Linked DNA regions of Homo sapiens. The protein of the gene in region 4 interacts with the protein of the main gene of each other region in a pairwise test. Each region holds a gene or a part of one and is shown on either strand. Other genes may lie near its edges.

Evidence for each region.
Region 1: the proteins of SAV1 (region 4) and RASSF3 interact in a two-hybrid assay, tested with the Homo sapiens proteins (one study listed by IntAct).
Region 2: the proteins of SAV1 (region 4) and ECHS1 interact in a two-hybrid assay, tested with the Homo sapiens proteins (one study listed by IntAct).
Region 3: the proteins of SAV1 (region 4) and GSTO2 interact in a two-hybrid assay, tested with the Homo sapiens proteins (one study listed by IntAct).

What each region holds. Positions count from the first base shown.
Region 1 is NC_000012.12:64,613,472-64,620,498, reverse strand, and holds part of RASSF3 (ras association domain-containing protein 3), read right to left. Parts: intron 1-7,027.
Region 2 is NC_000010.11:133,363,328-133,370,354, forward strand, and holds part of ECHS1 (enoyl-CoA hydratase, mitochondrial), read right to left. Parts: intron 6,705-7,027; coding exon 6,577-6,704; intron 5,696-6,576; coding exon 5,596-5,695; intron 3,667-5,595; coding exon 3,562-3,666; intron 2,769-3,561; coding exon 2,649-2,768; intron 1,399-2,648; coding exon 1,331-1,398; intron 1-1,330. UniProt on the Homo sapiens protein: Converts unsaturated trans-2-enoyl-CoA species ((2E)-enoyl-CoA) to the corresponding (3S)-3hydroxyacyl-CoA species through addition of a water molecule to the double bond.
Region 3 is NC_000010.11:104,279,174-104,286,200, reverse strand, and holds part of GSTO2 (glutathione S-transferase omega-2), read right to left. Parts: intron 6,832-7,027; coding exon 6,730-6,831; intron 267-6,729; coding exon of another isoform or gene 234-266; exon of another isoform or gene 211-233; intron 1-210. UniProt on the Homo sapiens protein: Exhibits glutathione-dependent thiol transferase activity. Has high dehydroascorbate reductase activity and may contribute to the recycling of ascorbic acid. Participates in the biotransformation of inorganic arsenic and reduces monomethylarsonic acid (MMA).
Region 4 is NC_000014.9:50,637,305-50,644,331, reverse strand, and holds part of SAV1 (protein salvador homolog 1), read left to right. Parts: intron 1-3,438; coding exon 3,439-3,582; intron 3,583-7,027. UniProt on the Homo sapiens protein: Regulator of STK3/MST2 and STK4/MST1 in the Hippo signaling pathway which plays a pivotal role in organ size control and tumor suppression by restricting proliferation and promoting apoptosis.

The DNA.
Region 1 (7,027 bases), on a different chromosome or scaffold from region 4:
ACAGAATTACCATATGATTCTATAGCAACTGTTACTTATGGGTATATATCGCAAAAAGTTTTAAGAGGGGTCTTTAAGAGATATTTGTACACCCCTGTTCACAGCATCATTATTCACATGAGCCAAAAGGTGGAAGCAATCCTAATGTCTATGGAAGAATCAATGGATAAACAAAAAGTGATATATACATACAATGGATATATTATTCAGCCTTTAAAAGGAAGGAAATTCTGACACATACTCCAACATGAATAAATCTTGATGACATCAAGCTAAGTAAACTAAGCCAGTTACAAAAAAACAATTACTACACAAATTCACTTATCTAGACTAGTCAGACGAACCTATATACGCCCCCCATGAAGGCAGGTTTCAATCTGTTTCGTTCACCACCAAATCTCTAGCACTTAGTCTAGCATCATTGTGAATATTCAATACTTGAAAAATGAATTCAGAAAACTACACACACACACACACACACACAGTCAACCTGCACTAATTTCTTTTTTTTTTTTTTTTGATATAAAGTCTCACTCTGTTGCCCAAGCTGGAGTGCAGTGGCGCAATCTCGGCTCACCACAACCTCCACCTCCCAGGTTCAAGCGATTCTCCTGTCTCAGCCTACCGAGTAGCTGGGAGTACAGGCATGCACCACCATGCCTGCCTAATTTTTGTATTTTTAGTAGAGACGGGGTTTCACTATATTGGCCAGGTTAGTCTTGAACTCCCGACCTCGTGATCCGCCCGCCTTGGCCTCCCAATGTGCTGGGATTACAGGCGTGAGCCACCACGCCTGGCAACCTGCACTAATTTTAAGTGAACTCTTTGCTGACTATATTCTAAGTCCGTTAACTCCAAGATCTTCTAAATCCATCCTTCTGGTCTCCAATTCCCAAACTCACCCTTTTTCCTCCTCTAATTATCTCACCTTGTTTAGCATCTGGAAAAAGAACCAAGTGAGGCAATATATAATTAGTAAATTATTCTTAGCTGACTGAATCATGTAGCAGCAGTTAGCAATTACAGTCCACAAAATGCAAAATATTAAGCTTGCTCCTTTAATACTCTATGAAACATGAGCCCTCTTCTGTCCTTAAACTGAAGGCAGAGTTGCACCGAGAATGCCATTAGGTCAGTTTTATCTTATTGGCTCATGTGGAAAAAAAAAAGGGAAGTTCCCCACACAAAAGTTTCACAACCCCAAAATGCTGGTATGTGTGTCCCTGGATAGGCTGAGAAGAAACTATCCCCAACAGTAAAGGGCAAGTTCCCCTTCACAAAGAAAAATCTTCCCAACACACCAGGCTGGTACCCCCACATCCATCCATCTGCAGCCACCAAGACAATGGAGATTCAAACCTCTGGCAAGGGCTGCCAGCCCTGCTTCAGCAAACAGCATTGTTCAACAAAAATATCATGCGAGCCACATGCATAATTTTAAGTTTTCCATAGCCATGCTAAAAAATAAGTAACATTAAATTTACTTAACTCAAATATTATCGAATATTATCATTTCAACATGTAATTGCAATTTTTTAATTATCATATTTTACATTCTTTCTTTTTTTTTATTATTATACTTTAAGTTTTAGGGTACATTTCTAATCTTCAAAATCCAGTGTGTATTTTTCACAGCAATCTCAATCAGACTAGCCACGTTTCGATTGCTTAAAAACTACATGTAGCTAGTGACTACTGTATTGTACAGCACAGTTTTAGAATGGTCACTTCTATCTCAGAATATATTTTCTGATTTGTTACTTAAGTTTTTACATATATTTCAAATACTCATCATTTTTTATGGGTTCTGACATCCTTCCTAGAGCATTATCTGGCCCTCTCCATTTAAAAAAAACAAAAACAAAAACAAAAGGCCGGGCGTGGTGGCTCACGCCTGTAATCCCAGCACTTTGGGAGGCCAAGGAGGGCAGATCATGAGGTCAGGAGTTTGAGACCAGTCTGGCCAACATGGTATAACCCCGTCTCTACTTTAAAAATACAAAAATTAGCCGGGGATGGTGGCATGCCCCTGTAATCCCAGCTACTTGGGAGGCTGAGGCAGGAGAATTGCTTGAACCCAGGAGGTGGAGGTTGCAGTGAGCCGAGATCACGCCACTGCACTCCAGCCTGGGCAACAGATCAAGACTTGTCTCAAAAAAAATAAAAATAAAATTAAGCAAACAAAAGCTATTTGACAACACTACTGATAGCCAAACCAGAACTACCTGTTTAAACTATTAAGAAAAACCTGGAATACTCAGGAGGCTAAGGCAGGAGGATCATGTGGGCCCAGGAGTTCGAGGCTATAGGGCACTATTATCATGCCTGTGAATAACAATTGCATTTTAGCTTGGGCAACATAGCAAGATCCCATCTCTTTAAAAATGAAAAAAGAAAAGAAAAAAGAGACCTGGAAAATAAACCAAATTTGATTTGGTTAATTTTGGTTAACATTTTGGTGAATTAACCAGTTTGGTTAACGCTGGTTGAAGTTATTTAAAAAACATTTTCTAACCTTGAAGATGATTACGTTTCTGTTGGAAGACAGTCATCAATAAGGAAATGTGATTGTTTTACACAGGGACGTAAAACAGGAAGTGATACACTTCCACGTCAACATTCCCATCTAAACAGATGTATAGGGCCGGGCACGGTAGCTCATTCCTGTAATCCCAGCACTTTGGGAGGCCGAGGCGGGCAGATCACAAGGTCAGGAGTTCAAGACCAGCCTGGCCAATATGGTGAAACCCCATCCCTACTAAAAATATAAAAAATTAGCCCCATGTGGTGGCACGCACCTGTAATCCCAGCTACTGGGGAGGCTGAGGCAGGGGAATTGCTTGAACCCAGGAGGCAGAGGTTGCGGTGAGTGGAGATCGCATCATTGTACTCCAGCCTGGGTGACAGAGCAAGACTCCGTCTCAACCAATCAATCAATCAATGTATAGCTTTACCACACTACAAAATAGGTGTGTTCCTGAAAAACTACATTTCAAAGTTTCCTCAAATACACTAAAGGAGCAAGCTCTTTAGGGAAAAATTAGAGAGATATTTTCATTTGCCTATTGGGTAAGCTTTTTAAAAACATTGCCAAAAGAGGCCAGGGACTGTGTATTGTTCACCACCCTAACCCCAGAGGTTAGAACAGTATCTGGCACATAGGAGGCACACAATAAATTGTCAACTAAATATATTAATGAATAAATGATGAGTTTTCTTAAAACAAGGGGAAAGTATATAAAGTGAGTTATGCTTAACCAGTAATCACAGATATTACCAATATCATCCCATTTTAAATCACTACTACCTGTAAGATACTGTGAAGGCTTATGGTCTAGTTTGGAAAGGGGGAGACATTGTGTACATTTGTGTATAAAGGAAAACTAACAGTACCAAATACTGGGACATCCATCCAAAATGAGCAGGCTTTCATTTGTTCAAGCACCTTAAGTGCCAAGCATTTATATTATGTAGTAGGTAAAAAATGCTAGTCTCTGTCCTCATTAAACAAAATATAATGATAAATTATAATTTTTGCTATGAAGGGAAAGAACAGCGGGCTTTAAGACTTTTCTGAGTCGACATGTTAAGGAGAATGGAGGGCGGCAACTCCAGGCCATGGTTCTGAGATGGCGATGGGGCCTGAAAGGAATTAAAGAGAAGGCTAATATTGTTGGAGTCCTAAAAGCTCTTACATCACAGGGTGAACAATAAGCGGGGCCTTGTAATAGAGGTAATGCCTGCTTGCCATGAGAATAAAAACTTCCTACAAGGCAAATGTGTGTAGCTCTTCAAACAGAGGAAGATGCAAAGAGGCTAAGTTAGCCAAGACTTGTCATATAGAAGAGAAGCTCCTTTGCATGCATTTATCATATATCCTACTGTCTTTTCACCATCCCCTCTGAAGAGGGACTGCTAGCCAATGGCCTTTGGCCAAATTAGGAGTGAAATACACGTTTCAAACTGGGGCCTTTATTGAAAGACAGCTACTTATGCTTGGAGACTTGGGGGTGGAAAATGCGAGGGCTAATGCCCAGGGCTAAGAGTTGGTGATCAGGCCACACTAGAAAGTATTTGGTCAGACTCAGTTTTTTTTTCTCCCAGAAAAAGAATGTTAACCGTATGACATGCACTGACTGCCAAAGGAAGTCTAAAAAGAATAACCACATTATTGGATATTTTTAGCCTTTCTTTTCAAAAATGTTTTGTGTCACTGCTTTCCAAATAATTCCAAATCTTGTGAGTTGGCCAGAAGAAGAAATGGGATAAGGAGTATACTACTCAAATATGAGGCTTTATAGGACTGGAAACTTTTTCTTCTGAAATTCATTTAAAGGAATATGCCTTTGTGAATCTTGCTCACACAAACACAAAATTCCAATGGATTAATATCGTGTAAGAACAGAACATATCAGACATGCAGAAAAGATGTGTAAATCACCTTGCCCTAGGCAAAATGTCTGGTGAAAATGTTTATGCCCCATAATACGGGAATTAAAAATCAGCATTTAAAAAGCTAGTATAGGCCAGGAGTGGTGGCTCACACCTGTAATCCTAGCACTGTGGGAGGCCGAGGTGGGTGGATCACCTGAGGTCAGGAGTTTGAGACCAGTTTGCCCAACATGGTGAAAGCCCGTCTCTACTAAAAATACAAAAAATTAGCCAGGCACTGTGGCGGGAGCCTGTAATCCCAGCTACTCGGGAGGCTGAGGCAGGAGAATCATTTGAACCCAGGAGGCAGATGTTGCAGAGCCGAGATCACACCACTGCACTCCAGCCTGGGTGACAAAAGCGAAACTCCGTCTCAAAAAAAAAAAAAGAAAAAGGCTAGTAGAGTCAAAATACCTATTATGTCATAAACCACTATTCTTTTACCCCAGTGATCTAGCTCTAAACTTCTAATGGAAACACTAATAAAAGAGTGCAGCTCATTACTGTTGATTCTAGCAATAAGACACAACCAAATAATTGAGGCACAAAAATATTTGAATAAGAAAGAGAAAACCGAAAGGGTGAAGTTGAGGCCTGCTATGGGGAGTCTAATAGACTTACTTACTGAAGTAAAATTCTTCAGCGCAATTTTTTTTAAAGTGTGGGTTGTTCAGAAGACAATTTCACGTTTCTCAAGACTTCTTGACTACCCTACTTCTAAAGCAAAAATACTGTCTCATTTCCTTATTCCCATGAACTACCAAAGGCTCAGGAGGAGAGGTAGCTTAGCTAAGAGGTAAGACACACTCTGACAGATTATAACTTTAGACCATTTCTATTCTTTGGAAATCTGAATGTGTCCTGTATTTACAGGTAGTTTGATTTTGGTGGGAAATCAAGAAGGCAAATAATAAATTACACAACTGTCCACATTTTTGGTTTTGCTGAAAACAATGATTAGGTGGATCCTTTGAAACACAGCGAATCCACAAATACGTGAATCCACAAATACAAATTATAAACACTGTCATGACTATATGCAGGTCAGGGAGTTGAAATTTTAAGAAACAGCCAGGCGCGGTGGCTCATGCCTATAATCCCAGCACTTTGGGAGGCCAAGGAGGGCAGATCACTTAAGGTCAGAAGTTCAAGACCAGCCTGGCCAACATGGCAAAACCCCATCTAGACTAAAATACAAAAAAAAAAGCCAGGCCTGGCAGCGGGTGCCTGTAATCCCAACTACTCAGGAGGCTGAGGTATGAGAATCAATTGATCCTGGGAGATGGAGGTTGCAGTGAGCCAAGATCCTGCCACTGCACTCCAGTCTGGGTGACACAGTAAGAATCTATCTCAAAAAAAAAAAAAAAAGAAAAGAAAAGAAATTTTAAGAAACTCTTAAATTTTAGGTGTCCTTATTTGCAAAGGGAATATGGAGCCATAAAATTATTTTTATAGCTAAAAAGTAACAAAATAGAGAGTGTAATTTGAGTCTGAAAACCTGAGTTCCAGCCTTCTTGCTATCTAGGTGTGGGCCTTATACAATCACTAAATAATACCTCCCCCTTTCATTAAGTTAATGTTTCATACAGTTTTTGGGAGCACCATAAGATACAGTACATTTGAAAATGGTAAAGATCAGGGGCCAGGTGCGGTGGCTCACGCCTGTAATCCCAGCACTTTGGGAGGCCGAGGCGGGCAGATCACCTGAGGTCAGGAATTCAAGACCAGCCTGGCCAACATGGTGAGACCCCGTCTCTACTACAAAATTTAGCTGGATATGGTGGCAGGTGCCTGTGATCCCAGCTACTCGGGAGGCTGAGGCAGGAGAATCGTTTGCACGCGGGAGACGGAGGTTGCAGTGAGCCGAGATCACGCCATTGCACTCCAGCCTGGGCAACAAGAGTGAAACTCCATCTCAAAAAAAAAAAAAAAAAGAAATGGTAAAGACCCAGTTACTATCAAATCAGGAAAACATTCATTCATTCAGCTTGCATTCACTGAGCAACTACTGTATATCAGGTACTGATCGAGACCCTGCGGATACAATAAACATGACATTCAAACTGCCACAAAACGTCATATGTTCGTTCCCTTTATATCTTTTAGACAGTTTTGTTTTTGAGACAGGGTCTCGCTCTGTTGCCCAGGCTGGAGTGCAGTGGTGCGATCACAGCTCACTGCAACCTCTGCCTCCCGGCCTTAAGCAATGCTCCCACCTCAGTCTCCCGAGTAGCTGGGACTACAGGCGAGCACCACCATGCCTGACTAATTTTTGCATTTTTTTTGTAGAGACAGGGTTTCACCATGTTGTCCAGGCTGGTCTCAAACTCCTGGGCTCAAGCAATCCTCCCATCTCAGCCTCCCAAAGTGCTGGAATTACAGGCATGAGCTACCACACGTGGCCTAGACAGGTTTTTTAACCCTTTTCCATTTTTGTTGTTGTTCTTGTTGTTAAGAATGGGGTTTAAAGTAAGAAAAAAAATGAAAACATTTTCTTTATAAGGTTTTTGTTACTGTTGGGGATAGAAAGAAGTTGCACTATGTTCCCTTGCCTGGCAAGAGAAGAAAGAAATTTCCAGTCCACCCGCTCCCTCAC
Region 2 (7,027 bases), on a different chromosome or scaffold from region 4:
CACGTGTGTCCCCAGGTGTGCGCGCGCGCACACACACACACACACACACACACACACGCATCTGTACCCCTTCCTCAGGTGCCCAAACCACTTTTAATTTTTATTTTATAGAACAATTAAAACACCGAAGTATGACTTTCTCCCAGTGAAAGACATGAATTAAAATGGTAATCTGGCCGGGTGCAGTGGCTCACGCCTATAATCCCAGCACTGTGGGAGGCCGAGGCAGGCAGATCACTTGAGGTCAGGAGTTCAAGACCAGCCTGGCCAACATGGTGAAACTCTGTCTCTACTAAAAATACAAAAATTAGCCAGGTGTGGTGGTGGGCACCTGTAATCCCAGCTACTCGGGAGGCTGAAGCAGGAGAATCACTTGAACCCAGGAGGTGGAGGTTGCAGTGAGCTGAGATCTCACCACTGCATTCCAGCCTGGACGACCGAGCAAGACTCTGCCTCAAAGGGAAGAAAATTAAAATTATGATGGTAATTAGAGGAATTACTTTAAGTTACTGGCAGAAATCTTATAAAATATTGCTCTAAAGCTTCAGCTTATCTTATTAGAATACATTTGAGCCTATTCCAAATAATTGGAATGATCTAAAAAAACATGGGTAAAATGAGTTACATTTTTTTTTTCAGACAGAGTCTCACTCTGTCTCCCAGGCTGGAGTGCAGTGGCGTGATCTCGGCTCACTGTAATCTCCGCCTCTGGGTTCAAGCGATTCTCCTGCCTCAACTTCCAGAGTAGCTGGGATTACAGGCACCTGCCACCACGCCCGGCTAATTTTTTGGATTTTTAGTAGAGACGGGTTTCGTCATGTTGCCCAGGCTGGTTTCAAACTCCTGAGCTCAGGCAATCCACCCGCCTCAGCCTCCCAAAGTGCTGGGATTACAGGGTGAGCCACCGCGCCCGGCCTCATTTTTTAAAAAAGTCTTTTTTTTGAGACGGGGTCTTGCTTTGCTGCCCAGTTGGACTCGAACGACCCGCCTCAGCCTCCCAGGAAGCTGGGGCTACGGATGCTCGACACCCACCCGGCTGAAACTGCATTTTCAATAAAGGAGCTGCTTGAGGGTGCAATTCACAGACCTCACATAACAGGAAAAACAAGAAAAGCCCCTGTAAGGTTTCTGTACTTTTGAACTTGTACATGCTCTACTTTTTTCCTAACATCAAGACCCACTGATGGAACCAATCTGATCCCGTTAAAGGTGAGGCTGGCAGTTCTGACCAGAAAGAAACGATACTTAATGATAAAATTTAAAAGGAAATTCCCAGCAACTTGTGTGACTGGAATTTGCTTGATTCTCCGGTTGAACACTGTTTACTCACAGTGGCAAAGGTTGAATAAAAGAGTTTCTTCTCCAACTTACTTCCTTCTGTTAATGTCATTTCAAAAGCTGAAAAACAAAGTCCCAGAGTTATGAACGGAGATATTACATGCAGAACTTTTCCTGCACGGTGACAGGAAGCCCTCCTCACTGACCCATGCACAACTGTGCTTTCGACGTGGCCCAGCCCTGCACAGGCTTCCATGGTGCCGCCCTTCTCAAAGGCACTGCCCCAGCGGAGACCTGGCAGAACCAACAGCTCTGCTATGGCCCCCAAACGTCACACTCCGGTAGCCCACGGCCCCAAGAAGGGAGAGGAACTGGATGAAAGGTGAGATGGCAAACTGTGCCCTTGAGGAGAGGCTGTGAGGCGGCAACGGGGCTGCAAACAGAGAAAAATAACCAAGGATGAAAACCAGGAAGGACAGCACGAGAGCCAGAGCTGGGCGCGGCCGGCACCAAGAACGCCTTTGGCTCTGCTCATTCCAGGCCCGTTCTTTGCACGAGGCCAAGCAGAGCAGATCCAGGTGCGCAGATGGAGGCAGGCGCTGTGGCTCCAGGGCTGGTGCCAGCATCCTCTCCCAGGGGAGCACGACCTTGCCAAACACCTCGGGCGACAGCAGCCTCCGTTCTTTCAAAATGCTCTCCTCACTGTATCCTGCCTCAAGCCAACGGCAAGCCCGGGGGACGGCCACACCCTCGAGATAAATGCACTCAGAGAGGTTAGGGGACCTGCCTGGGGCCACCCACACCTGTCCGGACTCAACCAGCTAATAACCATCTCATTCCACATGCTGAGAATAAATTGTGACATTAAAACTTGAGCATTTCTGAGGAGGGGGAGGTTCAGATCCACTTCCCTGGCAGAGGGAGAACTAAAAGGGATCCAGGCCAAGAACGAACAGCGTGGTGCTGGGCTGCAAGCCTGCGTAGCCACCTGCCAGGCGCACACGCAGCCGCCAACCCCAGGTCTCGGGAGGTGAACCGAGCCTCCCCATGGCAGAGACCATTTTACATTTGGGACCTCTGCTCCCTTCTCAGCCTTTCCCTGCCACTGCCAGCTCTGTACTGCCCTCACCTCCCAGGCCTGGCTCAGTTCTTGGGCCCTGGTACAAAGGGGAGCTGGGAACATCTCAGCGGAGTTCCTGAGTGCGTGACCAGAAACCACGACTCTACAGACAGCAGAACTGAGACACTGAGAAGCATTTCTGCCCAGGAGGGCTTAAGGCATATTCATTTGGAGCCAGAAAGCCTGCTGCTGAGGAATGCTCCTGACAGCCACGGAGACCTCTCCAGTGTCTTCCTGGCAGATCCCCTACCTGCATTCACTGATTCTTTGGCCATCGCTACTACAATTTTAGAATTGCTGGCAATTTTTTCTGCACACTGGATGGCTTCTTCCACCAGTGTCTCAACAGGACAAATCTTGCTGACAAGACCTGAAACACAAGAAAGTCAGTGAGTGATGTGCAGAAACAGCACTTGTCTATCCCTTCTCGAGTGAGTGGCCGCTGGGGAGCAGCGTGGCTGGAGCACCCCAGCCTCTGGACGCTAAGCAAGGGCGGCTTCCACACGGGAAGTGCCGCACGTGCCCCTTCCTGAGTGCTGAGTGATCTCGGCACTGCGGTCACTGTGCTCTCAGACATGTGGGCCAGGCTGGCCACAGCTCCGACGGCAGAGGCGGCCAGACACGGGGACTGTGATCACCAACAGGGCAGTGGGAGGACCGGCCACTGAGGCCTGGAGATGCCCATTGCTTACACTGCATTTTGGGGACGCAATTGCTGGGCTGTTATTCTGTACCAGATACTTACGTGTGGTTCACTTCCGTACATACAGTACTTCAAAATGTAGAAACAAAAGGCAGTCAGTCTTCTCCCAGGTCCTCAGGACCCAAAAGCTCATGCAACCACCGTGGGGGCACTTGGATGCTGCCCGGGGTTTCTGTGGGGCTCCCACGAGGGGGACACCTGGATGCCGCCCTGGGTTTCTGTGGGGCTCCCCCATGGGGGACACCTGGATGCAGCTCTGGGTTTCTGTGGGGCTCCCACGAGGGAGACAACTGGATGCAGCTCAGGGTTTCTGTGGGGCACCCATGAGGGGGACACCTGGATGCTGCCCCGGGTTTCTGTGGGGCTCCCCCGAGGGGGACACCTGGATGCCGCCCTGGGTTTCTGTGGGGCTCCCACCCCGGGTTTCCAGGTGGCTCTTGCGGGCAGCCCCAACCCATACCTGCTTGCTTGGCGTCCTGGGCTGAGATCCGGTCACCAGTGAGGACCATCTCCATCGCCAGCGACTTCCCAACAGCACGGGTGAGTCTCTGGGTGCCGCCCGCACCTGCAGGGAGGGGCTGGTCATGGCTGGCACTGTGATGAGTGAACCCAAGAAGACATCACAGCTGTGCAGCCAGCAAATTCCAAGGGGCTTAAGATAGGCCCTGAGACTAGGTCCAGGGGTCAGAGGCCAGGCAGCACAAGAGCCCGGGAACATCAGGGGCAGCAGCCCCTTTTCAAGCTCAGGCCCCACATCTGGTGCTCCCCTGTGGGCAAAGGATTACCTAGGTGCCGAGGCAAGAGACTGAAGGCACAAACTGTTTCGGTATAATAAAGAAAATAGTTAGAATAACAATAGTTATAATACAAATTAGATATAGAGATGATCATGGACATTATCAATCATTAGTATAAACATTATTAATCATTAGCTCTTAATATTACTCTTTGTTGTATTACTAATATAACCAAGAAATAACTGGCGGGTATAGGGTCAGGTGCTGAAGGCACATTGTGAGAAGAGACCTAGAAGGCAAGAGGTGAGCCTTCTGTCACACCTGCATAAGGGCCGCTTGAGGGCTCCTTGGTCAAGCAGTAACGCCAGTGTCTGGGAAGGCAACCATTACTTAGCAGACCATGAAAGGGAGTCTCCTTTCCTTGGAGGAGTCAGGGAACACTGCTCCACCAGCTTCTTGTGAGAGGCTGGATATTCTCCAGGCCTGCCCGCAGTCATCCGGAGGCCTAACCCCCTCCCTGTGGTGCTTCAACGATCACACTCCTTGTCCACTTTCATGCTCCTCCCGTACTCCTGGTTCCTCTTTGAAGTTCGTAGCAGATAGTGGAAGAAGAAAGAGTGAAAGTCTTAAAGTCTTTGATCTTTCTTGTAAGTGCATAGAAGAAAATGCTGACATATGCTGCCTTCCCTCTCTGCTTCGGCTACCTAAGAGGGAAGGGCCCCCTGTCCCATGATCACGTGACTTGCTTCACCTTGTCAATCACTTAGAGGATTCACCGTCCTCACCCTGCCCCCTCGTCCTGTATGCAATAAATATCAGTGCGCCCAGCCATTCGGGGCCACTACCGGTCTCCGCCTCTTGATGGTATTGGTCCCCCAGGCCCAGCTGTTTTCTCTTTATCTCTTTGTCTTGTGTCTTTATTTCTTACAATCTCTCGTCTCCGCACATGGGGAGAACACCTGCTAAGCCCCGTAGGGCTGGACACTACACTCCCCCAACACCCTGACATTAGATCAAGGTGATGACTCTGTAGGGCCCTCCCCAGCCTCTGTGGTCAACATATTAGAAGCTTATAGGCCTCCCTGACCCCAGGCACTGGTCCCTTATAGTAGCAGCTGTTCTAGGGATCAGACCCGAAACAAATGCACCGAGCTCACAGCTCCAGGCCTCAGAATCGGCCTCGTCCAACTCAGAGGGCAGCGAAGGGCACCCTGAGTGCAGCTGCTCCCCTCAGGGTCTCAGCTCCCTCCTGGCTGCTCGGCCTGGGCCCACCCTTCCTACCAGGAGAACCCTGGGGTTAGAGGGTGTTGCTTTTTGCCAAGAGCCCAGGCCCTTCTCACGGGCCTGGGTGGGGGGTCTGACTCCCCACCCTGAACCCAGGCCATGTGACCTCCATGGCCAGTGAGATGGCAGTGTGCAGAGCTCCCAGTGCCACCCAGGGTCACCATGTTCCCTCTCTGCCATGGACACGAATCACAAGCAAGAACTGTCATGGTTAGAAGCCAGCGTTACCCAGGACCAGCCTCTCCCAACACCATCAGATGTGGGCACAGTCACAGTCCCGGGACTCTAAGGCCCCCCCCAAGCTCTGTCACAACCACTCTAGCCTCCGTGGCTGTCCACAGAGGGACCACTGACCAGCCATGGGGCTGTCCATCCAGGGCCTCTGGTCAGATATGAGCTGTGGGCCCTGAGACACAGGCAGATTTTGAGTAATTACCTAAGGCATCTATGCCAGAGACAGTGTCACTCTTTACCTGGGATGGTTCCTATTAAGATCTCCGGCTGTGCAAACTGGGCCTTCTCACCGGCATAGATGATATCACACATCATGGCAAGCTCACAGCCCCCGCCAAACTGTAAAACATTCGGCATCAGGAGAGTCTTACCAGGGGAACCCAGTCAGAAATCACTCTGCTTGCTTATTCAAATTTTCCATTTAAAAGAAACAGTGTTGGGGGTATGACAAAGACTAACATGGTGGCACCAAACTAGATAATTGTTATGATAAGTTAACTACAGATGGTTGATGCTGTTTACCAGGGGCTGGCAAACATCCTGTAAAGGACCATGAGGGTCTTACAGGCTCTGCTGCCACGACTCAACTCTGCTGCTGTGGCCGAAATGCAGCCACAGAGACTAGGTGCACAGGTGGGTGTGGCTGTGCCGGGAAAACTCCATCCGCAGACCCCTGGCTTACACGGCAGGGAGTGTCATGAAATGATCACAATCCGCAGACCCCTGGTTTACACGGCAGGGAGCGTCATGAAATGATCACAATCCGCAGACCCCTGGCTTACACGGCAGGGAGCGTCATGAAATGATCACAATCCGCAGACCCCTGGCTTACACGGCAGGGAGCGTCATGAAATGATCACATTGCCTTCCCTATAGGCCAAGATCAGTCTCAGCACTTCAAATAGTCCCAGGACACAGAGCTTTCAAGGGGAGCAAAAGAAGCTAGTTTATAGATGTAGCCAAAGCCAACACCTCTCTTCCCCCACCCTGGAAGAGAGGCTTGCTGGGGAGAAGCTGTCAGGTGAACAGCCACGAAAAAAGCAGATGCCAGGAGGTGTCCTCTCCACACAGTTCCTGGCTCTTTAGCACCATGAGGCAGGAAAGGAGGCTGCTGGCCTGGGAACTAAAGGCCTCTTCAAAATAAAAATCTGTTATGCTGTGTATGCACAGCACGGTTCCTTCAACCACGAGAGGAGGAGACTCTTGGCAGCAACACTCACGGCATAGCCATTGACAGCAGCGATGACTGGCTTCTTGACCTGGGTGAGGTGGTCCCAGTGCTTCAAGAACTTGCTGGAGTAACAGTCCTGGAAACTCAGGTTCTGCATTTCCTTGATATCAGCTCCAGCTAGCAGGAGTGGAAAGGAGGTTCCAGTTACCAGAGAGCAGAGAGCCCACCCATCCTATATCTCTCAGACCAACAAGGAACTTCAGAGCACACCAGACACAGGCAGTGGGGTTGCTGGGCACGGCTGACACCAGGCCACGTGGACAGCTGTAGGGACGCTGTAATGCCAGCTAGAACAGAAGTCACGCAGAGGGGCCCTGAGGCAGGCAGCAGGTGCAAGGGAGGCGCCCACAGAGGCTAGGCATATTTGTCAGGGCATAAGCCCTTGACACACACAAAGCCTGACTGCCAAGGACCTAAACCCCTTTGAAGAAGCTGTTTTG
Region 3 (7,027 bases), on a different chromosome or scaffold from region 4:
CTGAAATTAAATACTGGTGATAGTTGCACAACTCACTTAATATACTAAAAGCCAGTGAATTGTACACTGGAAAAGGGTGAATTTTGTGGCATATGAATTATATCTCAATAACTTATTAAAAATAGCTAGTAATAATGAATTTAGTTTATAGACATGTTAACTTAGATGATAAAAAATTTAGCTTGTAGTCTACTATATATAAAAGGATACAGAAAATTGTTTTCAGTGACGAATTAACCAGGTATAAACTTTCTTTTCTTCCTATCCTGGTGATATCAAAGGAGAAACAATTAAACAATATATAAATAATTTCATCACTGGAAATTAATAAAAATTAAGAAAGAGCAAAAGCAAAACTAAACCAAGACAATATAATCTAACTTGAATAAATGTCTTTTTTGATGAGAAGAAAGAACAGTTTAAAAATTAAGATTACCAGGTGCAGTGGCTCATGCCTGTAATCATAGCACTTTGGGAGGCTGAAGTGGGAGAATCACTTGAGCCTAGGAGTTCAAGACCAGCCTGAGCAACATAGTGAGACCTCGTCTCCACAAAAAATTAAAACAAATAAAAACAAAAACAAAACAGTTGGGCATGGTGGCCTGAACCTGTGGTCCCAGCTACTCAGGAGGTTGAGGTGAGAGAATCACTTGAGCCCAGGAGGCTGAGGCTGCAGTGAGCCGTGATTGTGTCACTGCACTCCAATGTGGGTGACAGAGTGCGACCCTGACTCAAAAAAATAATTATAATAATAATTAAGATAACGGAGGCAGGCTCGGTGGCTTCAGCCTGTAATCCCAGCTACTCGGGAGGCTGAGGTGGAAGTACTGCTTGAGCCCAGGAGCTCAAGACGACAGTGAGCCATGACTGTGCCACTGCACTCCAACCTGGGCAATAGAGAGAGACCCCAATCTCTAAAAGAGGAAAAGAAAATAAAATAATTAAAAAATTAAGATTATGGGCAAAATTTAGAATCAATAAAGTATTTAACTACAGATGCTCCTGGGTGATGCACACATAATTTATGCAAATTCCACCTCATGCAAACTGCTACACATAAGGCACATGATCAAGTTTGGCAATGCGGGAAACTCTGCGTGGAAATGCAAAGTGAAGCACCCCAAGGCAGGTGGTTGAATGACAAGAAGCAAAACCATAAAGTGCCCTGTGGCCACGGGCAGACGAAGGCTTCAGTTGCTGGGCCATGTCTCATCCCTCAGGGCTATTTCAGCATTATTTATGTTATCCCCTCCCCGCTCTCTTTTATGGAGCTCTGATGATGACGAAGAAAGGACCAAGCAATAGTCAGAGTGCAGAACCAATTCAGAAGCCACGAACACTTTCTAGATTTAAAGCAAAACTCCAAAGCCTCAAGGAAATCTGACCAAATCCACCTTTCACTGCACTTGGACTTGATTTGACTACTTCCATAATGAAAATATTTTTGGAAGGCACAGATAAAAAGTGACACCAAGAGGTCCTGCCACATTCAAATCCACAAAGATCAAATGAAGCCTGGCTCAAGTCCCATTCTGAAATGGGAAAGTCAATACCTGAAAAAGAATAAAACTAAAAAATGTGTGCTGCTTAGAGTAATGATTCAGTAAGGGCTAGAAAATCTGCTTGAAGACATAAAGTGCAGCAAGACAAGACAAGTGTCATAGTTTTAAAACTCATGCCAATGTTCAGAACAGGAAAGCCAGTGAGCAGGCTGCTAGTTTGATAATAAAAGTGGCAGTAATATATCTCAAAGAATTGTAAAAGATATTAGAGAAAAATGTGGTTATATAACAAGCACAATAAATCTTTGATTTTGATGGAACTTAATTTTTTTTTTCTTGGAGACAAAGTCTCACTCTGTCACCCAGGCTGGAGTACAGTGGCATGATCATAGCTCACTGCAGCCTTGACCTCCTGGACTCAAGTGATCCTCCCACCTCAGCCTCCCAAGTAGCAGGGACCACGGGTATGCATCACCACATCCAACTAATTTTTGTATTTTTTGTAGAGATAAGGTTTTGCCATGTTGTACAGTCTTGTCTCGGACTCCTGGATTAAAATGATCTGCCCGCCTCGGCCTCCCAAAGTGCTGGGATTGCAGGCATGAGCCACTGAACCCACCTGAAACTAGATTTAAAAAACTAACAAGCAAACAAAAAAACAAGCCAAAAAAAAAAAAAAACTTAAAAAGTTAGACAAGGCAGTTATTTCAAAAGAAGAAAGTGTCAGAGTTTAAGGCCACAAAAGGTTAACTGAGCCTTCTGTTTCAGGATAACATAGCAGAAGATTATGCATGAAATCTTGGCTTGCTTATCACTCAGAAAGACAATGAGTATTTAATATATTTTTAGCTCACAAAAAATCCTGATTGTGCAAAACCATGTGAAAGAGTTACATAAATCAGGGGATCCTCTCCATTAGAATTATTCTGATAAATTTCAATTTCACTAGAATCTCCTGGAATAAATATTTTGGCATTTAAAGGAACAGATCGCATAATTCAAGTACATTGGTCATGTTTTCAGATTTCAATATTTCCTACATTGTAGTTATAATTCTTTGTTTATTTGTTTTTGAGACAGAGTCTTGCTGTGTCACCCAGGCTGGAGTACAGTGGCACGATCATAGCTCATTGCAAGCTCAAACTCCTGGGTTCAAAAGATGCTCCCGCCTCAGCCTCCAGAGAAGGTGGGACTACAGACCCGCACTGCCATGACCAGTTCATGTTTTAATTTTTAGTAGAAACATAGTCTCACTGTGTTGCCCAGGCTGGTCTTGAACTCCTGGCCTCAGGTGATCCTCCCTCCTTGGCCTCCCAAAGTGCCTGGATTACAAGTGTGAGCCACCACGCCCAGCCATAGCTACAATTCTTGCTAACATTCTATGGGACAAAACCACATTCAAACCTGTTAGGACAATGTGGAGTACTCAGTGGTCCTTAAATAGCATCAGTGAAAGCTACCTACACCGAGGCTGGTTAGTGAAAGCTACCTATATAGAGGCTGGTTAACAACAGTGTTCCTGGGGCTCAGTTATTGAAGATAAAGTGAAATTTCTTATTCAGTGACATGCTGGAGCTGCCCACATCTTTTGCCAGCTCTTGAGTTTAGAAATAGCACATTGGTAGCTCAAAATTAACCTTGACGGAAGTGTTTACACCACCCAAATCAGCAAATGCTATAAATCCGTGCTTTTTCTTTTTCTTTCTCTTTTAAGAGAAAATTGATTCTTAAACATTTATCACCACCCCACTAATGACATTCCTAAACTCTCTGGTGAAAGCTCCTAGCCCATAAAACCATTCCAAAGGTCCAGTAGAGACCATACATTGTTCTTCTAAGCTCTGCCCGCATATGAATATCCCATCAACACCACAAATTTGACAAAATGTGTCTTCCCTCAAACTCTTAGTGAAAAGCATCACATTTACCGGCCACAAACTTGGAAACCATCCTCCATAACTCCTACTCCTTCCTCAGATTTCATCTCATCTTAGTTCCTCAAAATCTCTCTAATTAAACCTCCCTCTCCAACCCTCGTTAGTGGGGTCCTCTTTGTCCCTTCCCAGTCCCTCCTCTTGGACACTCTAATCCATCCTCTACATTCTTGCTGGGCTGAACTTCTTCTTCTTCTTTTTTTTTTTTTTTGAGATAGGGTTTCACTGTGTTGTCCAGGCTGGAGTGCAGTGGTGCAATTATAGCTCACTGCAGCTTCAACCTCCTAGGCTCCAGTGATCCTCTCATCTCAGCCTCCCAAGTACCTAGGACTACAGGCATAAGCCACCATGCCAAGCTAACATTTTGTATTTTTTAAAGAGATGGAGGTTTGCCATGTTGACCAGGGTGTTCTCAAACTTCTGGGCTCAAGCGATCCTACCGTCTTGGCTTCTCAAAGTGCTGGGATTACAGACATGAGCCACTGTGCTCAGCTGGGCTGAATACTTTTTCTTTTCTTTTCTTTTTTTTTTTTTTTTTTGAAACAGAGTCTCACTCTGTTGCCCAGGCTGGAGTGCAGTGGCGCAGTCTTGGCTCACAGCAACCTCCCCCTCCTGGGTTCAAGTGATGGACTGAATACTTTTAAAAGCATGAAGGAGTACACCACTCTCCTGCTTGACAGGCTTCAATTACTCACCATCAACTCTGAAATAAAGTGCAAATCCCTGGGCACAGTGGAAAAGGCCTTTTAGCATCTGACTCTGGTCCACCCTCCACATTCACCTCTTACCAATCACTCCCTCGCTGTCAACCCCTCACTGATTATTGTTTGCCGAACACACCAGGCTCTCACCCTTGTGCCTCTAATTCATCCTAAGAGTCAACAGAGGCATTATCTACCCCCACAGACCAGCCTTCTTGTATGCATGTCTCCAGCCTAGCACTCAACACACCCAGGTTTTAAATGGGCTTAACAGCCTATCTCCCTGTCCAGGCTTTGAGCCCCTCGAGGGTCTTTAATTTCTTTTTATTCCTAGTACCTAGTTCTGAGCCTTTACAGAGAGGCCACTCCAATTTGCAAAACAGGACTAGTACCATTTGTACCTGAGAAGGTTGTTGGAAAGATTGAATGAGATGATGTATGCAAGTATCTGCAGCACGATTCATGGCACAAAATACTGGTTCATTTGCCCTGGAAAAGACCCCCGACTGAAGAAGAACTGTATCTCCATCATAACCCTATACTTTCATCTAGCAATCTGTAATTTAAAAAGTTCATCCATCATCCAAATGGAGGTAGAAGGGAAACTGATGAAAATGTTTCAATTACTGTATCGTTGAATTCAAAGAGTTTTTTTTTTCCCAGCTCCTTTCCCTGGTCCAGTATTTGTTTATCTGTGAGAAGGTAACCAGGCATGATGGGGTCCATTCAGCTGATCTTTAAAATAGACTATAAATTCTCTATTCACAAGATTTTCGAACTTCTTTTTTAAAGCAGCAGCTCTCCTCTCTCCCCAAATGCCATCTTCTTAGATGTCAGGTTGAACATGGTGGTTGAAGGCAGTGCTGACCTAAGTAAAGCAGTGTCTAGAACAATCTACCAGGCCTCCACTCACTGGGCAGTCCCCTGCAGAACCCAGAGGCTCTGAGGAACACACATTTCAAAATAATCCCTCATTTTACACATGGGAAAACCAAGGCCCAGAGAGGTACAGAACATTGCCCAAGGTTCTGGAATTCAGTAAAGCCAAGCCTAAGATCCAAGATTCTTTCCACCACATCATATGGCCTCCTTGGAGTCAAGGCCACAGTTGGTGACCTCAGGACAAAAGGTTGACATTTCCTACACATGACCATTCGTCATCCATAAATACTTAATCGTACAAATTTGAGATAGGCAACTGGAAATATCAATACATTTAATCTGTTTCCACTTGATAAAGGTCAAATGGAAGAGTATTAATAACCAGTCTTCCCTTAAGGGGAAAAAAATTGTATTCTCTGGCTGCCAATAGAGGAACCACCCACCCATAAGGTGAATTTGTCAGTTTCTGGAGCAAAAATAAAGGAAGTAAAAGAACTGCCTTCCTGATTATTCTAGAAGTACAGGATAAGTAGCTCCATTACTGCCAGGTTAATGAAGCATCTACTGGCAAAGAGTATTCCTGCCACCGCACCCATTTCCCCCTTCTTCCTTAATTACAGACCTCTGATTTTATTCAGGGTATCCCAGCTAAAAGACTGTATTTCCCAGCTTTCTCTAAGATAGTTATGACCCCACAACTAAGTTCTGGCCAACGAAATGTAAATAGCCATTGAGTAGAATTTCTGGTAGGATTTAAAGCCCTTTAAAGGGGTATGACCATTTGCCATTTTTTTCTTTATATTCTCCTTTTCAGAGCCTGGAACTTGGATGTGATGGCTGCAGTGACAGCAGCTATCTTGTTATTTTGAGGATGATACCCTTGTACTAAGTTGTGCTAAGGATGACAGAGCCCATAAAGAGAAAAAGCTTCAGTTCCTGATAATGTCATGAAGAAGCCATCAAGATAGGCCTGAACTGCCTACCTCTGGCTTTTTTTTTTTTTTTTTTTTTTTTTTGTCAGTCCTACTTACTCTGTCACCCAGGCTAGAGTGCAGTGGTGCAATCATGGCTCACTGCAGCTTTGACCTCCCAGACTCAAGCAATCCTCCTGCCTCAGCCTCCTAAGTAGCTGGGACTACAGGTATACATCGTTATGCCTGGCTAATTTTTAAAATTATTTTTGTAGAGGAGGGGTCTTGCTATGTTGCCTAGGCTGGTCTTAAACTTCTAGGCTCAAGTGATCCTCCTGCTTCAGCCTCCCCAAGTGCTGGGATCACAGGTGTGAGCCACCGTATGTGTGAGAATAAACCCTTATAATACGTGAGAAAGAATGTTATGTGAGAGAGTAAACCCTTACAACATGAATTTACAGTAGTTAGACTTCAGCAGCCAAACACAACCCCTAACCTTTACAGACCTTGACCTCATTGGCAGAAGCTACAGAAGCCATGCAGAGCTACTCAGGGAGATGGGGTGACTCTGGGAAAGGAAGCAATTCATGGCATGTCCTCCCCAACTCCTCATCAGATTTTCCAGAATAATTCTAGACCAGGTTAGAGGAGGGCAAACATGCAATCAGATGATCAGAAGTCTGACTTATCAAAGGCAGAAAGAATAAGCCTGTGAAAGCTGGTGTTAGAGTGACCAGGTTAGCGACCCTGCCTAGCTTCCTCCACTGTAGCTGACCAGGAGAGGGACCCCTTTTTGTACCTCTTCCAGGTTGCTGAATTCCTGACGCAGGGCTGCCTTCAGATTAGTGCATTCTCTCCCACATCTCAACGCTACCAGGCACTCCTTGGTCAAATGTGGGACCTAATCAGAGGACACAGGTTCTCAGTGGAGAAGTCTGTGGAAACTTCCAGTTCCTGTTCTGCCTGAAAAGGCAGCGAAGCTTTATAACTCCAGCCTAACAGGGCAACACCCACATCAGACCCCCCAGCTCCCTGTGAGAGGCACTAGGTTTTCTCTGTGGTTCCGGTTCTCAGTAGGAATCTACTTCTTATAGTAC
Region 4 (7,027 bases):
GTATGTTCTGTTTCTTGCTATTACTAGACAAGAAAGTGAAAATTGGGACTGAACAAAACATCCCATTTCTGTTTAATAAATATAGCCAGTAATTCTTTGTGCTGTTTTGATTGATACTGGGCTGGGTAGATCTGCTTTGTTGCCAGACTTTTAGCCCTGTGCTGCCTGATAGCCAGTTGTCACGTGTGGCTGTTGAGCCCTTGAATGTGATTAATATAAATTGAGATGTGCTGTAAGTGTAAATACACACTGGATTTCAAAGTACATAAAAGCTAGTATTAGTTTAGTAATGAAGTTGCAAATATTTCAAATTAACCACATTTGAGCTTCAAAAGCTGAGCCACAAGATTAAAAATGAGTAAAATATCATCTGCATTTTGATAAATGTTGCTTAGTGTCATCTGGCATAATACAGTTTTTTGGTTATAGTGGACATTTGTATTTTCTTAGAACCATTAAAATAGTTATGAAAATGTGTTTTAGGATTATCAACTGGAAAACTAAGCTTTATCATTATTGTGTTGTTTTAATTATTTTATGTATTTGGATTTATTAATTCAACTTTGAAAATCTGTTTTTTCCCATGATTCCATGTAGTGGCACCCAATCAGTGTTTATTCAACTACTGAGGTTGTTGTCCTTTGAAAGAATCAAACCTGTGGTGTGGTCATCAGGTGGCAATGATTGTTGCAGTCCAGATAACCAGATTTGAGAGTTTACTTTTCTGTTCGTTGACATGGTTTGGCTCTGTGTCCTCACCCAAATCTCATCTCAAATCGTAATCCCCATGTATCAAGGGAGGGACCTGGTGGGAAGTGATTGAATCATGGGGGCCATTTCCCCCATGTTGTTCTGGTAGTGAGTTCTCATGAGATCTGATAGTTTAAAAGTGTGTGGCAGTTCCCCCTTCTTTCTCTCTCCTGCCACCACGTAAGATGTGCCTTGCTTCCCCTTCATCTTCTGCCATGATTTAAGTTTCCTGAGGCCTCCCAATTATGGAACTGTGGGTCAATTAAACCTCTTTTCTTTATAAATTACCCAGTTTCAGGTAATTCTTTATAACATTGTGAAAATAGACTAATACAATCATCATTAACCTTATGTTATTACAGAATTTTAATAGTTTTTTAAAAGCAATTTCATAATTAGTTAATTTACTTCTCTCAGCAACTTGGTAGAAGTTGAACAAGAGAGAATAAACGCTGCCCTTAAGCTCACATATGTAGTATTACTAGTTGTCTGGTTGTCTATCTTAGGCCAATCCTTATACAAAATTCTTGACTTACATTAGGTCATTTAATCCTGAGAACAACCACCTGTGGTATGAATTTATTATTCCACTTTTACAAGTATGGAGGCTGAGGCTTAGGGATAGGAGGAGTTTTGCTTACATTTACATAGTTTGTAAGTGTTAAAGCTGTGGTTCAAATCCAGGCGTACCTGACTTCAAAGTCCCAATTCTTCTTCACCCCCAGTTGTACTATCAAAGAACATTTTCCTTTGAACCTATTTAGGAAAGAAGAGTTGAAGATAGAATTCAGTTCCATTTGCATATTGATCTTTTAAAATTGTTAACCACAGCATAATCTAACCTTATTTTAATCCCAGTTTAGTAAACAGTGACCTTTTCTAATATACACATGCATTTTTTTCTCCCCATTGTTATATATACACCACATTTTCTTTTTTTTCTCCCTAACTTTTATTTTAGGTTCAGGGGTACATGTGCAGGTTTGTTACATGGGTAAATTGCATGGCTTGGGGATTTGGTACAGATTATCACCCGGGTAATAAGCATAGTGTCTGATAGGTAGTTTTTCTTTTCTTTTTTTTTTTTTTTCTGAGACGGAGTTTCACTTTTGTTGCCAAGGCTGGAGTGCAGTGGCGCGATCTCAGCTCACCTCAACCTTCGCCTCCCAGGTTCAAGCAATTCTCCTGCCTCAGCCTTCCAAGTAGCTGGGATTACAGGCATGCATCATGAAGCCTGGTTAAGTTTTGTATTTTTAGTAGAGACGGGGTTTCTGCATGTTGGCCAGGCTGGTCTCGAACTCCCGACCTCAGGTGTGAGCCATCACGCCCGGTCCCTGATAGGTAGTTTTCAATCCTCATGCTTCTCCCATCCTCTGCCCGCAAGTAGGCCTCAATGTTTATTGTTCCCTTCTTTGTGTCCATGTGTACTCAGTGTTTAGCTCCTACCTATCAACATGTGGTATTAGTTTTCTCTTCCTGCATTAATTCACTTAGGATAATGGCCTCCAGTTCCATCAGTGTTGCTGCAGACTACATGCTCTTGTTCTTTTTTATGGCTGGGTAGTATTCCATGGTGTCTGCATACCACATTTTCTTTATCCAGCCCACCATTGATGGGCATTTAGGTTGATACCGTATCTTTGCTATTGTGAATAGTGCTGCAATTAACATGTGCACACGTGTTTCTTTATGGTAGAATGATTTCTATTCCTTTGTAGAAATAGTCCCATTAATGGGACTGCTGGATTGAATGATAGTTCTAAGTTCTTTGAGAAGTCTCCCAACTGCTTTCCACTGTGACTGAACTAATTTATGTTCCCACCAGCAGTGTATAAGCATTCATTTTTCTTTGCAACCATACCAGCATCTGTTATTTTTTGACTTTTTAATAATAGCCATTCTGATTGATGTGGAATGGTATTTATTTCATTGTGCTTTTGATTTGCATTTCTCTAATAAGCAGTGATGTTGAGCATTTTCTCATATGCTTGTTGGCCACATATACACATAAATCTTTATGTTTGAAGGTGCAGACCCCTTTTGGTCTCAAATAGACCCTTTTGGCCGCTTCGAGTTCAGCTATTAACCTTCAGGTGGTTCAGTGCTTTCCTTACACTTTCCCATATAATATCTCCACTCCCCACAGCATACACAGGCTATTAGAACTAAAGTATGGTCTTTTTTTTTTTTAATCTCTGTGACTTAAAATAGGTTCTGATCAACTCTGACTCCCATATGTTCTCTTGAGTTGGTAAAAGTTGAAAAGTTATCTGCATTGGATAGAGATATTTCAAACACAATACTCACTGCTGCGTCACTACATATCCTAACCCCCATTTTCAGCCTACGGGAGGAAGGAAACATCCTTTCTTAGAAACTGTCAACCTTTCTGATATGAATTTACAGCTGATGACTATTTCTTGTGGGAATTTACTATTCTAGTTTTAAGCCTTTGTATAAAGGTTAAAACTTAGTTCCAGCTTTTTCATATCCTCCTTTGAACCTGTTTTTGAAAAGACTAAATACCAGCCAGAAGAAATATCTTAAAAATACATTACCTTTCAGGTGGTGTAAGTCAGTTTGGACAGAAGGCACACTGAAAAATGCTTAAGTATTATTTGTTCTTTATAATTTCTTGTTTAGATTTTAAGACCTTTATCCTAAAGAATGTCACTCCTTTCTTCTTAGTGTACCTCGGTATGATCAACCACCTCCTGTCACATACCAGCCACAGCAAACTGAAAGAAATCAGTCCCTTCTGGTACCTGCAAATCCATATCATACTGCAGAAATTCCTGACTGGCTTCAGGTTTACGCACGAGCCCCTGTGAAGTAAGTACATTTACAACACAAATTTGTTTGAGGAGTGAGTGAAGGGCTGAATGGAGTCTCTGGGCTGCTCGATCCAAGTAGTGTGCCATATTTTACTCTTAATAATATTCGGCTTCTAAGTAATACGTGACTTGAATAAAGGATGTCATAGTTTATAATGTGTGAAAATCATTAATTAGAAATATTAGTTCTTCAGACATTTATAGAATCTTCATTTCTTTGTGTGCGGGCCTCTGCTATTAGGGATACAAGTAAGAAACTTACATTCTCATAGGAGAAGATTAATTTGTAAATAAGTGATACAGTACTTGTGATAAAAGTAAGGACCTGGGCTTGGCACAGTGGCTCACACCTGTAATCCCAGCACTTCGGGAGGCTGAGGCAGGAGGATCTCTTAAGTCCAGGAGTTCGAGACCAGTCTAGGCAACATAACGAGAGCCCCATTTCCACAGAAAAATTTTAAAAATTAGCCAGGCTTTTTGCATGGTCTGTAGTCCCAAGTACTTGGGAGGCTGAGGTGGGAGGATAGCTTGATCTGAGGAGTTCAAGTTCAGCCTGAGCAACATAGCAGGACTCTGTCTCTATAAAAAATTTAAAAATTAGCAGCATGCTGTGGTGTATGCCTGTGATCTCAGCTACTTGGGAGGCTAAGGTGGGAGGACTGCTTGAGCCCAGGAGTTTGAGGCCGCAGTGAGCTATGCTTGTGCCACTGCACTCCAGCCTGGGTGACAGAGCATGAGAGACCCTGACTGCCCCCCTACTAGTGCCAGAAAAAGGAATGATAGCAGATGGCATTTTCTTTCCTATTTTCCTCTTTTCTTTGTCCCTTGATACCACCTGACCTACAGCTGTATGTTTGTATGCTGATTCTAAATAGTACATAATATCTGTATGCGTTTTTATTTTCCTTAAATCTGGAAGAATATGTGCCTAACTGTTAACCTTAGTATTTCTGGGGGTGGATATGGTTGAGGAGAGTTATTCTTTCTGTTGTATGTTATTTCTACTCTATAGTCATGTTTAATAAGAAATAGCATAATCTTTCCTTTTTGGGGGAAGAGATAGTACTTAAATGGAATTCCTGGTTTCTTACAGAAAGAAACAGATTCCTGAAGATTATAGTCTTTTTGAATTCTGTGGTTCTGTGAGCTAACTATAAAACTCAAGGAAACTAGCAAATAGGTTGTAATTCTTCCAAAATGGGCCAGACTGACAAAAAGGGAGCAAGTACTATACTTCTTTACTGCTTAAAAACTTAAACAAGAGGTCTGGAAGCCTGTTGCTTTCTAGTTGATTCTAATTAATGTTGCTGAAGAGGATGGAAATGGTTAATATTCTATCAACAAAGGGTGAGTGGTTATCTATGAATTAGATAATGAGAATCAATTATCACAACAAAAAGAGACATTTTTGCAAAAAAAATTTGCATGTTTCTTCCTTTTGTTTTTCAGACAATTGAGAATCTGAAATTCTTTAATCCTGAAATTCTTTAATCCTATCTCTCACAGTAATTTACCAACACAATTTTTGCATATACTTCTAAAACTTGATTTAGAAACAGACTGTGTTTTAAATTTGTATTTAATTTTTGTAAAGTTATGTTCCTGTGTCTGCTCACAAAAGTCTATAATGCTTGGTATAACTGTACTCAAGCTGAACTATAGGATAAAATTTTAAAAGTTAGGCCGGGTGCGGCGGCTCATGCCTGTAATCCCAGCCCTTTGGGAGGCTGAGGCGAGTGGATCACAAGGTCGAGAGATCGAGACCATCCTGGCTAACACAGTGAAACTCTGTATCTACTAAAAATACAAAAAATTAGCTGGGTATGGTGGCACGCGCCTGTAGTCCCAGCTACTCGGGAGGCTGAGGCAGGAGAATCATTTGAACCCGGGAGGCGGAGGTTGCAGTGAGCCAAGATTGCGCCATTGCACTCCAGCCTGGGTGACAGAGCGAGACTCCATCTCAAAATAAAATATAATAAAATAAAATTTAATCTTTGACAGCAAAAACATTGTCAAGAACATATTTACTTTCTGTTATTTCTCACACACACACCAAAACACTAGTCCTCAGCAGTGTGTGGCAGGGGTATTTTTTATTCCAGTGGCTTGGCAGTCCTGCAGTGTCACCATTGACCCTGCTCTGGATACAGGTGAAAAAGAGGGAGGAGTGGACACAGTGTTATGGCGGGTGGGTGCAGGGGACTTAGGCTACATGGTGATACCTGGAGCTGAGGATAGCAGCACTGTTGATCTTGAAGTCAGCATGCAGTGTGGACAGGTTATTTTTGGTAGCATTATAGCAACTGGCATTTGTATATATGGCTTATTTATAAGTAGTATTTGAATAGAATACTGCCCTAGGAAAAACAGAGTGAAAGAGATGCTAGAAGCATGGACTACTGGAGTGTTTTACACCCAATTTTCGGAATGATTTACCTGTGTATATACAGTATAAATGACTAAAAGTTAAACTTGTGGAAGCAAATTTCTTGGCTAGTTAAGAAGGAAAGAATGGGAGTTTATACTTTTCAGAAAAAGAAGGAACACTTAGGTGATTATAGGCAGAAGGGTAGTAACTATGTAGAAGCAACAGAGGAAAGAATTTGGAATAGGATTTCCATTCCATGCTTTGCAGTTTTTTCACATCTGTGCCCTTCTTGGAGTGCACTTTCTTCCCCCAGAAGGATTTTCTCTAATCTGATTTTGTTGCTTCTACCCATAATCGTACTCTTGATGCTGAATGCTGATTGGCAAGTCAGAAACTTGGCCAGGCATGGTGGTGCACCTGTAATCCAAGCTACTTGAGAGGCAGAGTCAGGATTGTTAGAGCTTAGGAGTTCTGGGCTGTGATGCACTATGCCAGTCGGATGTCTGTACTCTTTGGCATCAGTATGGTGACCTCCCAGGAGCAGGGACCACCAGGTTGCCTAAGGAGGGGCGAACTGGCCCAGGTTGGAAAGGGAGCAGGTTAATACTACTGTGCCGATCAGTAGTGGCATTGTGCTTGTGATTAGCCACTGCACTTCAGCCTGGGAGACATAGGAGATCTTCATCTCTTAAAAAAAAAAAAAAAAAAAAAAAAACTGACAAAATTGTTTGAAGATTTTTTCTTCCTTTAGACAAAACTTGAATACTTATACAGAATGATATTCGTGTCTTAAAAATAAGTATAATATTTACCATCTTATTTTTGTTCTTTGTTTTCCTTGCTAGAAAGTACACAGATGATAGATTAGTTTAACATTGTTGTAGTTCACCTGGTATAAATGGTAACCATCTTGACTTAGTAGACATTGCTGAATTGCCTCTTAGCTAACTCTGGGAGATTAAGATTTTTTGTTAGGAATTATGAATTTGTTTCCAAGGAGCACATAAAATCTTAAGTTACAAGAATGGTGGATGTTCTAAGAAATACCTTATAACTGTTTCTTCATGGAGGCTCA